3 linked regions of the Homo sapiens genome follow. The protein of the gene in region 2 interacts with the protein of the main gene of each other region in a pairwise test. Each region holds a gene or a part of one and is shown on either strand. Other genes may lie near its edges.

Region 1 (3,651 bases), on a different chromosome or scaffold from region 2:
GGACTACAGGCATGTGCCACCACACCTAGTCAATTTTTGTATTGTCAGTAGAGACGGGGTTTCACCATGTTGGTCAGCCTGGTCTCGAACTCCTAACCTCAGGTGATCCACCTGCCTCGGCCTCCCATAGTGGTGTGATTACAGGCGTGAGCCACCGTGCTTGGCCTCATTACACAGATATTTGAGTACTTACTAACAAGTTGCCCTCATAGTCATGAATATAAGAAAATGAAATAAGAAGATTGTATTTTACTAATAGAAAGTAGATGGAGTAAATGTTTCACCAGATCCCTTAATCTATAGTAGGAAAGTACATTTTCAAATATTAAACAATCAAATAGCAATATAACTAGAATGGTTAGGAATACAGTTTAGTTATTTACTTAGTGACTTAGTGGTTATAAAAAACCACTAGGAAAACTATGTATAGTCATCTGTGTATCCAGAAGCTTGTCAGAGAAAAAGAGGAATATTTTGGTTATCCTAATCATCTATTCACTTGAAATTTATTTTATAAAATTAAACTCTCCTTAAATAAGTTGTAGCAATATGAGTAATTTCTCCAATTTATTTAGTTGCGTTTTAATTGACATTATTAAGTATCTTTATCAAATTTGTCAGAGTAATTTTCTGTTTTTCATGAGTCTTCTGTTTTTAATGATTTTGAATTAAAAGAAGTTCATTTGGCTGGGCGCAGTGGCTCACACCTGTAATCCCAACAATTTGGGAGGCCAAGGTGGGCAGACTGCTTGAGCCCAGGAGTTTGAGATGAGCCTGGGCAATATGGTGAAACCCCGGCTCTACAAAAAATGCAAAAATCAGCCAGGTGTGGTGGTGTATGCCTGCAGCCCCAGCTACTTGGGAGGCTGATGTGGGAAGATCGCTTGAGCTTGGAGGGGGTTGAGTCTGCAGTGAGCTAAGAACACGCCACTATACTCCAGCCTGGGCAACACAGCGAGACTCTGTCTCAAAAAAAAAAAAAAAAGTTCATTGAATTACCGTGTAATCACATTTAGTACCTCATCATTAGATGTAGAAATATATGAGATTATACTGAAGTTATAGATTGTAGGGCATATCTATTTGTCTTTTTTAGAACAAACAGCTTGTTTAAAAACTTTTTACGCTAAGATGGAGGTCCAAAATTCTCTTTAAAGGCTGCATTTAATCAAGATTGTAAAAATCTCATAAATTGATTATTAATGGTAAAACAGAATACTAGAAATACACTCAATAATAAACTATGCGGTACATAATTTGTTAATTCAACATGTTAATTTCAGGATCCTATAGTGCTTCAGCATCAATATTATAAAGAAACTCTATTATTACATATTTCAGAATAACAGGTTTATTTGAACATTTTGTTGTTTAGACCTTTGCTGATGGGGGCTTATTTGTTTTCTTTTGTGTTGCTATTTAACCATCTTTATACCATAGGCCATAATTCATTTTACCTTCATTTTAAATAAAATTTTACACTACTTCAAGACAAAGACCCAAACACACTCACAAACATATTTTTACTTAAAGATTTCTTTTAAAGGATTTATAAAAATCAAACCAAAAGGGAAGAAAATTTGGTTCTTTGCTAGCACAGAAAAACTGTTTTTCTCTGATAGAATATTTTAACAAGAGCCAGACTTCAACAAGATGTCTAGGTATTAAAAGTGACAACTCGGCAGTAAAGAAAAGTGCAACTTCCTTTCAGGGTGCACAGGGCCAACATGAGGTTGAGGGGAGGAAGATGCTTTGGCTTAAGTGAGAAGCAAGGAGGAGACAGTTCTGTTCTCTGTTTGACATGTTTGAAGTCTCATCACGACAGCATAAAGAAAATCACAAATGTAATGTTTGTAATGTTCTGACAACTATATAGTCTTCAATTTAACCAAATGATTTTCTACTTTCTTTATATATAAGTATAATAGTATAGTATGTTTCCTGCTGAATTATTAATTATTAATATAAAGAATCCTGCTGCTTTTGTATCATTTCAAATATGGTATTCAAGTTTAAAAAAATTAGATGGCTGGTTAAATTTTGTTTTTTTATACAAGCTGTATGGTAAAGGTAGGAGTTCCATAAAAAAAACACTGCTAAATACCTGTCCAAAAGAAGGGAATTTTTATATACTTAACATTAAAAAAACAAAACCAAGAATAATATGTATTGTAACATGTGATTTTAAAGCATAGCTTATTCTACCCCACTCTATCCTCACTTCTCCTCTCCCAACTTAGTCTTTTATCCAGTTAGGTTGTTTAAAATGTTGCCATCACAAATAACTATGTATTATATAACCCATTTTTTCCCCAAATCTATTAAAGCTATGTTGATTCGATTTTTCCTCTACTGTACCTTCTTCCTCTCCCTTAACTCAGGTACTCTAAATCCCTTGCTTGGACGACTACAGTGCTCCTCTAATTCTTCTTACTCTAAACCTCTATTTGAACCTACACAAAGTCAGCTAAATGCAAATCTGATTGTGTTTCTCTTTGTTGTTCTCCAAAAGCTCCCTATCACCTTCATGAAAAATTCCAAAGTTCTTGGACCTATATATAAACCATTCTATAATATAGTTTGTTTTTTCAACTTTATTTCTTAACATTTCCCTGTATGAATCCTATGTCCAGACGCACTAAGATAATTATAAACAGAACAACCCGTGATGTATCATACCATTATCTCTTGGCACATGCTTGGCTAACTCTACTCATCCTTTCAGGGCCATCTCAAGCAGTTCGTTCTACCTTGAAGCCTTTTCTAACCTCCACTAGATGACTTGATGACACCTTCATGAGTACATGATAAGTGTCTTCTCTACATTTCTGTAACTCTCACGCCTGGCATGGTTCTTAGAATATAGTAATGATTTAATAAAAACCTCCTGAATTATTCCCTTGGAGAAAATTCTCTGGGGTAGATATGAGGACAAAAGGCATATGCATTTTTATATCTTTTAGTGCATTATAGAAAACTTGGCTCCTAAGGGGGTTATACAAAAGTATATGCCATTAGAAATGTATTATGTACCTAAGTTTCAAAATCTCATGAGCATGGGGCAGTACCTTTTAGAAACACAAGGTACAAAACTATGTTTTATTATGTATGTATTAGCAAAATACAATTTATTTATTTATTTATAGACAGGGTCTCACTCTGTTGCCTAGGCTGGAGTGCAGTGGCATAATCTCGGCTCACTGCAACCTCCACCTCGCAGTCTCAAGCAATCTTCCTGCCTCAGCCTCTTAAGTAGATGGTACTACAAGCATGCACCACAACACACAGCTAATTTTTGTATTTTTTGTAGAGATATGGTTTCACCACGTTGCCCAGGCTGGTTTCGAACTCCTGGACTCAAGCAATCTGCCTACCTCGGCCTCCCAAAGTGCTAGGATTACAGATGTGAGCCACTGGGCCCAGCTGAATGGGTTCACTTCACTTTCTATAGTAAAAGTAAGATCCCATCAGTGAGCCTGGGGGGAAAAAAAGACAGGTGGGTGGGAGTGTGTGTGTTTGTGCTGTTTGTTGGAACAGACCTGTCAGGGCATCCAAGTCTTATCAAGTGGTAAGACAGTCTATCGAGTGTGATGGAAGGTGACAGAGACCTGGCAGAGGCATTCATAGGAAAAAGAAAGAACCCTGTTCCTG
Region 2 (3,651 bases):
TGTCTGCTAGGACCCTTGCTGCTTCACTTTGAGTGTCATCTAGCAGGACTTTGAAGCTAGCTAATTCTGCTTGTGCCTTTTTGCGGTGTTCAACTGCTTGAGCCAGATTTTCTTTGGTTATTTCCAAATCTTTTTGAGATTCAGTTTGAACAAATTCTAGAGCTTTAACAGTTCTCTCCAGAGCACTAATTTTCTCTTGATACCTGATGCAGTCCTTCTGTAGCTGCTTTACTTCTTGTTGTTTTTCTTTTAACAGTTCCTGAAGTTCCTTTGCATGGCTTTTATTTCCGGGTTCTTTCTGAGCACCTTGTATTTTCTCCAAATATTCCTTTCGTATTTCTGATTCCACCTTAGTTTTTTCCTTGACTAACTGCTGCTTTTCTTCTTCCAATTCACTCACACACTTTTTAAGGTTCTTCATTTCAGATTCCAATAGCTCATTTTTTATTTGGGCATCTGTAACATCCTGACAGTAATTCCCAATGCTTCCATTAAGTTCTGCTAATTGATTCATAAGCCTCTCTTCCAAATCATCTTTCTCTTCTTCTGCTGTCTCCTTTAGTTTGGTAACTCTGGAGAGTTCTTCTTGGATTTGCTGATTTAACAGGTTCATTTTGGTTACTTCCTCCTGAAGCATTTTTAGTTCACCATCCTTTGTTGATATCTGACTCAGTAAGGTATTTTTCTCATTTTCTAAAGTCTGGCTAAATTCCTTGTTTTTCTGCTTCTCCTCCTCTAATCCAGCAATTCTTTCTTTGAGCTGATCAATCTGCTGTAGGTAGTTATTAATTTCATCATGTGAGCTGAAATCCTTACTTACAGCAGGGTTGGCACTCTTCGCTGATGGAACCGATTCTGAACATGTAGGTCTTGTGCTCATACTCAGAGAGTCTTGCTCTTCAGTCTCACCTGGTATAGACTGTGTTCCCTCTTCAGTGACATTCGTTTGGTTATCATGTTTCTCGGTGGCCTCTAGGTTAGCTTGTTTAGATACATTACCTTCTATCTGATGCTTTAAATCTTGAACCTCTTCACTTAGAGAGTCTTTCTCAGACATTAAAGACTGAAACTTCTTAGAAAGGGTTTCATACTCCATTTTGACCCTTTCAAGTTCTTCCTTCATGCTGGCATTGGAAGAAAGAAGTGTTTCCATACACTCTTTAGCTGTATCTCCTGCAGGGTGCACCTCTGCCCTAAGCCGGTCATTCTCTTCTTCCAGCTCTAGGATTTTCTGCTGTTTAGATTTAGCAAACTTTCTCATCTTTTCTTTCATTTCCTCCATTTCTTGCTCAGCTTCCTGCAACTGCTTTTCTGTCTCCTTCTTGTTTGCCTCTGTGCTTCTTAACTTGCCATACAGTTCTTGTTTCTCTTGCCTCACAGCTTCCACCACATGCTGAATCCTTTCTGCTTCATTACTAACATTCTCATAGGACTGCAGAAGAATTTCATACTCTTTTTGTAGCTCCTTGTGTTTCTCTTGCCACTCAGTACTTTCTGCAATCTTAGAAGATTTCAAAGATTCAATTTCCTTCACTAACTTTTCCTTGTCTTCAGTAAGACCCTCTAGAGCTAGTTTTAGACTTTCACAGGAGCTGCTGAGACTCTGATTTTCCAATAAAGACCTGTCCATTTCTGTAATGAGTTTGTCTCTTTCTTCTTGAAGAAGAGCTAACCTTCCTAAGACCGTATCTTTTTCTTTATTTTGAGCAGAAACTTGGCTTTCCACATCTGCCAGAGACTTGGTGAGACGTTCAATGGTACCTCTGGCCAAAGACAATTCCTCTTGGAGACTTTTGTTTTCTTTTAGTGCTTCTTTTCGGGAAATAAGGGCAGCTTGCAGTTTCCTTTGTATTTGTTGCTTTGCTCTACTTTCTTCTCCAATCTCTTCTGGTTTTTGCTTCATTTCACAAAGTTCCACCTGTAGCTGCTTTATCCTCTCATCATGCTCTTTGGCTTGCATTTCTAGCTGTGTATGCAGAGCCTTAATTAAATCTTCTTGTTCTATTATCTCTGTCTGTATTTTAGTGAGAGCTGCTTCTTTCTCACTAAGTTGTCCAGAAAGGTAGCTAACGTCTTCTTCCTTTTTGCTTATGAGTTTTTGCAGTTCATCCAGTTTAGGTTGCAATTCTCTTAGATGTTCTAGGCCAGCAATTTGTAGTTGGCTGCTTTCCAATTTCTGCTGCAGGCTTTCGGCATGGACTTCAGCTTCATGGGATACTGTCTTTAGACTCTCGATTTCTAAACCCTGTTTATTTATCTGCTCTTGTAACTGAAATACCTCTTCTGATTTTTTAGTAAGCTCACTTGTTGTAGAACTAACTTTCAATTCTAACTCTACTTTCTCAGCCTCTATTTCCTTCAGCTGGGCCTTAATCTGGGCAACAGAAGTTCCGCCCTGCAGAGCACTCGCATCTTCAGAATGAGAAGGCCAGTCTGGGCACAAGTTGGACTCTAAAACAGGTTGAGTGTGATGCTGTTCTGTGGCTTTGAATAAAGGTTCTTCTAAACCTGGAGTGGAAGAACACGATTCCTGCTGGTCTGTGCTTGGGAGTTTTCCGTCTATGGATTCCCTTACTTGAATCTGGAGTTGCCTTAGCTGGTCTCCAATATTCTCATTTTCCTTGCTTTGCTCATCAAACTGTTCTTGCAAGCGATTATAGTCATCTTTCTGTTGCTTTAGCTCCTCCCTGAGATGTCTTTCTTTCTCCTGTGCCTTTTTAAGAATTGCCTTGCGGGAGGTTAAGGCTTCCTGTAGCTTCTTTTGAAGTTGCTCCTTTTCTTTTTCAAGGGCCAGTATCTTTTCTTCTAGTTCTGGTTTCCAGTGTTCACTACTACCTGTACAAGGTGGACTTATCACCACTGTTTCCTTTACAAGTGCTACGGAGTCCCCATCACTTGCATCCGTGTTACTTGTGATTAACTTCTGGATAATTGCTTGGTTTTCACTGATTTCTGCTTGGAGCAAATCTATTTGGTTTGTTTTATCTTGCAAGGTCTGATTCATCTGTTTGACCAGAGCCTGGAATTGCTCTTCAGCTGCCAGCTTTTCTTCCAAATCCTTCCTTATATGCTGTAGTTCCACTTCTTTCTCAGATATTGTCTGTTTTAAATAAATTTCTATTTCTTGGCACTTAGAAGTCACACATTTTTCTGAGTATTCTTTGTTTTCTTTATCTTCTTCCACTTCTCCCCTCTCAGTCTCACTGAGTGGGATTTCTTTCTTAGATTCATCTTTCAAGTTGGCTAATTCTTCTTCCAATCTACTGACTCTTTGCAGAAGCTCCTTTCTGTTAATAAGAGCTGCCTGGAGCTTTCTCTTTCTCTGCTCATTTTCTTTCTTCAGAAGGTCAAATTCATGCTGAAGTTCTTCCTTACTTATTTGTCCTGCTGGGCTCATCTCATCATAATTTTGTTTAAGGCCAGAAGAAACTTCATTATCTTCTTCCACCTGCTCTTTTTTTGCTTCCTCAGCTCTGGATAATAAATTTAGCTGTTCTTTAAGAGTCTTAATTTCAACCCCAAGAGAAAACTTCTCTTCATTAAGCTGAACCATTTTCTCAGTCATACTAAAGCTGATTTCTGTCACTTGTTGATCCTTCTCCTCGATGGTTTGTTGGAGGGTTTCCACATCTCTCTTTTTCTCTAGTAAGA
Region 3 (4,175 bases), on a different chromosome or scaffold from region 2:
CGCTGGAATAGTAATTCTATTTGTCCTGAAAATCCCAGTAGGTGGCAGCACCGATGTTCACAGTCTACCCCAGCCCTCTGCTAAGGGAACCCAGCTTCTTTGTAACTAACCCCTAAGGGATAATACAGGATGTGCATCACTATGAGGTGAAAGAGTGGGAGGAAGAACAGCACCGCCCAGCGTTCCGGGAGTAAGTGAGCTTTGTGCTTCGATTAGATGACCCCACTAATTTTCCCCACCAATATTGTCTCCATCTTCAGTCTTGGACAGGATAGATACAAAGTTTGTCTTAAAATCCCCTAGTTTGGGGAGGGACCCTCACTAACTGTGTTGCTCAGGATGGTGTTTAACTCCTGGACTCAAGTGATCTTTAAGCCTCAGCCTCAGGAGTAGCTGGGACTCCAGGCAGATGCCACCATGCCTGGCCTTAAATTCTGAATTCCTGAAACCCTACTTAAAGGAATAACTTCCCTATTCTAAATTCTAATTATTGTGGCCTGGCACTCACCTTCTCAGGAGCATTGATGACCCCAGTGTTGTAGCCAAATTGGAAAGAGCCGATTGTAGCAACTGTGATGGCAAATATCAGAGCTGGGGTGACCTGGAGGGAGGGAAGACAGAGGAGAGAATAGTCCTTAAAACTTGTGATTGATGACTGTTTCTTATTAATTATGGAGCTGTATTAGGAGAATTTGAGTTATGAGTGGTATGAAAAGAACATCCAATGAGATTTAGGTAATTAATGGGGAAGACAAAGGAATAGATTATACTAAAGAACTTATCTGGAGATAAGAATGTGAAGTTAACTTGGTAAAAATGAAAGAAAATTGGGGAAGGAAGAAGTTAAGAGAAACTGGGTTGGTCAGTTTGGAAATATTTAAAAACTTGCATCAGGCAAATGTAGGCATAGAATTCCACTCACGAACTGGGAGGGCAGAGAAAAAGACAGTCTCGGGTAGGATTACTAAGAATTGACCATTCTGGAAACAAATACAGTGCAGTCTGATCTGTACCCCAGACTCCACGGAAGCCCACTGGTGGTGGTGGAGGGGGTGGTAGTTTGTGTCTTCACTGCTGGGTGGCTCTTTGAGTCTCTTATCTCTCAGGACCATGTAACCTACTGGATCTACTCACTGCATCCTGGCCCCATTTCAGTCTTCGTTTATTAAATACAGTTCTGCTATCCCTAACTCCCGCGCAGGGGAAGAAAGTACTTACTCTGAACCCAACATATAAGGGCGAACCCAACATATAAGAGACATTTCTTAGTGGGGAGAACCGGTCATCTTCACCTTGCCTGGAATAATTCAGCCGGGCGAGACATTTTCCATTTCTACCTTGGGGCAGCTCAATTTTTATACCTGAGGCCAACTTCTACGCCATTCCCCCCCACCCCACCACCCAAAATCCCTTCAACCTTTCATATCTTAAACTCCTTTCCTTTCAGGTCGGGCAGATTAGGCAGCAGGCTGGGAGCTTCAGCAGGAGAAGTGACCTTGCCTGCAGCCTCCCAGATGTCTCAGTCCCAGCTAAGCATCGGTACCCCGGAGGGCCCTGCCAGTGCAATGCTCTGTTAAATCTTTTTCCGTTTAGTAAAAATCTCTTCTGTCTCCTCTCATCATTCACTATCTTTGAGAGCCTTTTCTTCTTTAGTCTCATAATTTTCCATCCCTTTCTTATTTTCCTACATTTTCTTTCTTTCTGCTTTGTAGAGATGGGATCTCACTATATTGCCCAAGGCTAGTCTCAAACTCCAGGCCTCATGTGATCCTCCTGCCTTGGTTTCCCAAATGCTGGGGTTATAGGTGTGACCCACCACACCTGGCCCCTTATTTTTAGTTAAATTTATCTTGGTAAAAAATGCCTTTCTTGCTGCGCGCAGTGGCTCATGCCTGTAATCTCAGCACCTTGGGAGGCCGAGGCCGGCGGATCGCCTGAGGTCGGGAGTCGAGACCAGCCTGACCAACATAGAGAAACCCCGTCTCTACTAAAAATACAAAATTAGCCGGGCCCGGTGGTTCATGCCTGTAATCTCAGCTACTCAGGAGGCTGAGGCAGGAGAATCGCTTGAACCCGGGAGGCGGAGGCTGTGGTGAGCTGCGGTCGCTCCATTGCACTCCAGCCTGGGCAACAAGAGTAAAACTCAATCAGAAAAAAAAGAAAAGCCTTTCTCCCTGCAAATAATGCATATACAACACTCAATATTTTAGTATGTCCTGCACTCACGATTTTAACCCTAATAGGAAGGACAACTGGAATTCTTTCTCCTTAGCATCCACGAACCCCATATGTTATAGGACAAACAGATGGCCAGACCCTGGCCTGTGCCTCCAAACACAGACCTTTTCAAGGTCTAATGCTTCCAGAGAAGTCTTCACACTGGCTCTGAGACCCACACTTGTAATCCATACAACCAAGCAGCCCGATCCTCTAAACACTCAACCATCTCGTCCTCAGTGGCATATGGTTACCTAAAATAAACCTGAGAAGCAAACACAACTTCTCCGGGTGACTTTCCTATGATAAGGTGAACAGAACTGTATGACATTCAAAGAGAACTGATGAAGCGGCAGCAGTGCAGGCTAGAGACGAAATGAAAAGGCCTTAAGATAGCTTGGTGACTTAGGAGAAAATAGAACAAGGAGATTACCATTAATATTTGCCTTTCTGAGTGTATCCCAAACAAGCAAAAATAACCAGTAATTATATCATTCTTACCTTCTGTGTCCCCATCGCTGTAATCTAATTCAAGTCTTCAAGAAAGATCTAGGGGTGATTCCAGAAACAGCTTTTTCAGCCAACAAAACCTTCAAAATGTCCTTCTCAGCAGCAAGTTTTCTCCACGTCCTCAGGAAGGATCCAAAGTCTTACCATTACAGCATCTCTGGGTCTCGCTGGGATCATGACTATTTATAATCTCCGCAAAGGGTGGAGCCTGAAAGGGCGACAAGCCCCCAGCCCCACCCCACCCCACCCCACCCCCCTGAAGCAATCTTGTGATCTCTCGGAATTCTGTGTTATCAGAACTACCCCCGCCCCCGCCCCACAGACAATAACGCCCTCCCTCCCCCCTCTCTTAAAACCACATCCTTCCACTCTCTCCACCCTGGGTTTTTTTTTTTTTTTTTTTTTCAAAAGCTCATCCTTACTCCTTCCCTCTTCTAATAGCAGCTAGAGCCTCTTAGTTTCACAGACAAAATACTACCAGAAAAGCCTGGAGGGAGGGCAAATACACTATTTTATGCTCTCGCATCTGCTTGGGATTAAAACAATCTACAGAGAGATTAGAATAAATCTATCCATACAAAACGAAGTCAAGTGGGTGCTACTATCAGAGATTTAAGGTTGTTAGAAAGAGTGTTAGTAAGAATTCTTGATCCTATGAATTTATAGGCTGGGTCTACAATCTTTTTTTTTTCTTTTTTTTTTGAGACGGAGTACACAATCTTAAAGGGGAGGGAAAGACAGCCTGAGAGAAGAAAATCAGGGAAATAATTTTGCCAGTGTTCCTTTCTTCGCATAATCTCACCTGGAGGGAAGAAAATCTGAATTTCTAGGAGCCAGACCAACTATCAGGGCAGTAGGAATAAGAGGTTCAACTGTTTATGGAATACAATCCATATCCTTTTTTTTTTTTTTTTTTTTTTTTTGATATGGAGTCTCTCTCTGTCGCCCAGGCTGGAGTGCAGTGGTGCGATCTCGGCTCACTGCAACCTCCGCCTCCCGGGTTCAAGCAATTCTCCTGCCTCAGCCTCCCGAGTAGCTGGGACTATAGGCGCCCGCCACCACGCCCCGCTAATTTTTGTATTTTTAGTAAAGACGGGGTTTCACCATATTGGCCAGGCTGGTCTCAAACTCCTGACCTTGTGATCTGCCCGCCTTGGCCTCCCAAAGTGCTGGGATTACAAGTGTGAGCCACCGCGCCGAGCCCTATATTTAATAAGGCATTTGCCATATCACCCATTCTGAATTCTGCATCACTTTCTGCTAGTCTCAAGCTTATAGCATCTAGAAATGCAATAAATACCGAATTCAATTAAGCAGGTATTTGCCGAATACACGCTATGTATCAGGTACTCTCCAAGAAGCTGGTGATTCTTCAGTGAATAATAGAAAAAAAGGCCGGGCGCGGTGGCTCACGCCTGTAATCCCAGCACTTTGGGAGGCCGAGGTGG

Evidence for each region.
Region 1: the proteins of GOLGB1 (region 2) and CEP126 interact in a two-hybrid assay, tested with the Homo sapiens proteins (one large-scale study listed by BioGRID and IntAct).
Region 3: the proteins of GOLGB1 (region 2) and SLC2A3 interact in a two-hybrid assay, tested with the Homo sapiens proteins (one large-scale study listed by IntAct).

What each region holds. Positions count from the first base shown.
Region 1 is NC_000011.10:101,917,940-101,921,590, reverse strand, and holds part of CEP126 (centrosomal protein of 126 kDa), read right to left. Parts: intron 1-3,651. UniProt on the Homo sapiens protein: Participates in cytokinesis. Necessary for microtubules and mitotic spindle organization. Involved in primary cilium formation.
Region 2 is NC_000003.12:121,694,216-121,697,866, forward strand, and holds part of GOLGB1 (golgin subfamily B member 1), read right to left. Parts: coding exon 1-3,651. UniProt on the Homo sapiens protein: May participate in forming intercisternal cross-bridges of the Golgi complex.
Region 3 is NC_000012.12:7,933,302-7,937,476, forward strand, and holds the start of SLC2A3 (solute carrier family 2, facilitated glucose transporter member 3), read right to left. Parts: upstream 2,887-4,175; 5' UTR 2,734-2,886; coding exon 2,719-2,733; intron 602-2,718; coding exon 509-601; intron 1-508. UniProt on the Homo sapiens protein: Facilitative glucose transporter. Can also mediate the uptake of various other monosaccharides across the cell membrane. Mediates the uptake of glucose, 2-deoxyglucose, galactose, mannose, xylose and fucose, and probably also dehydroascorbate.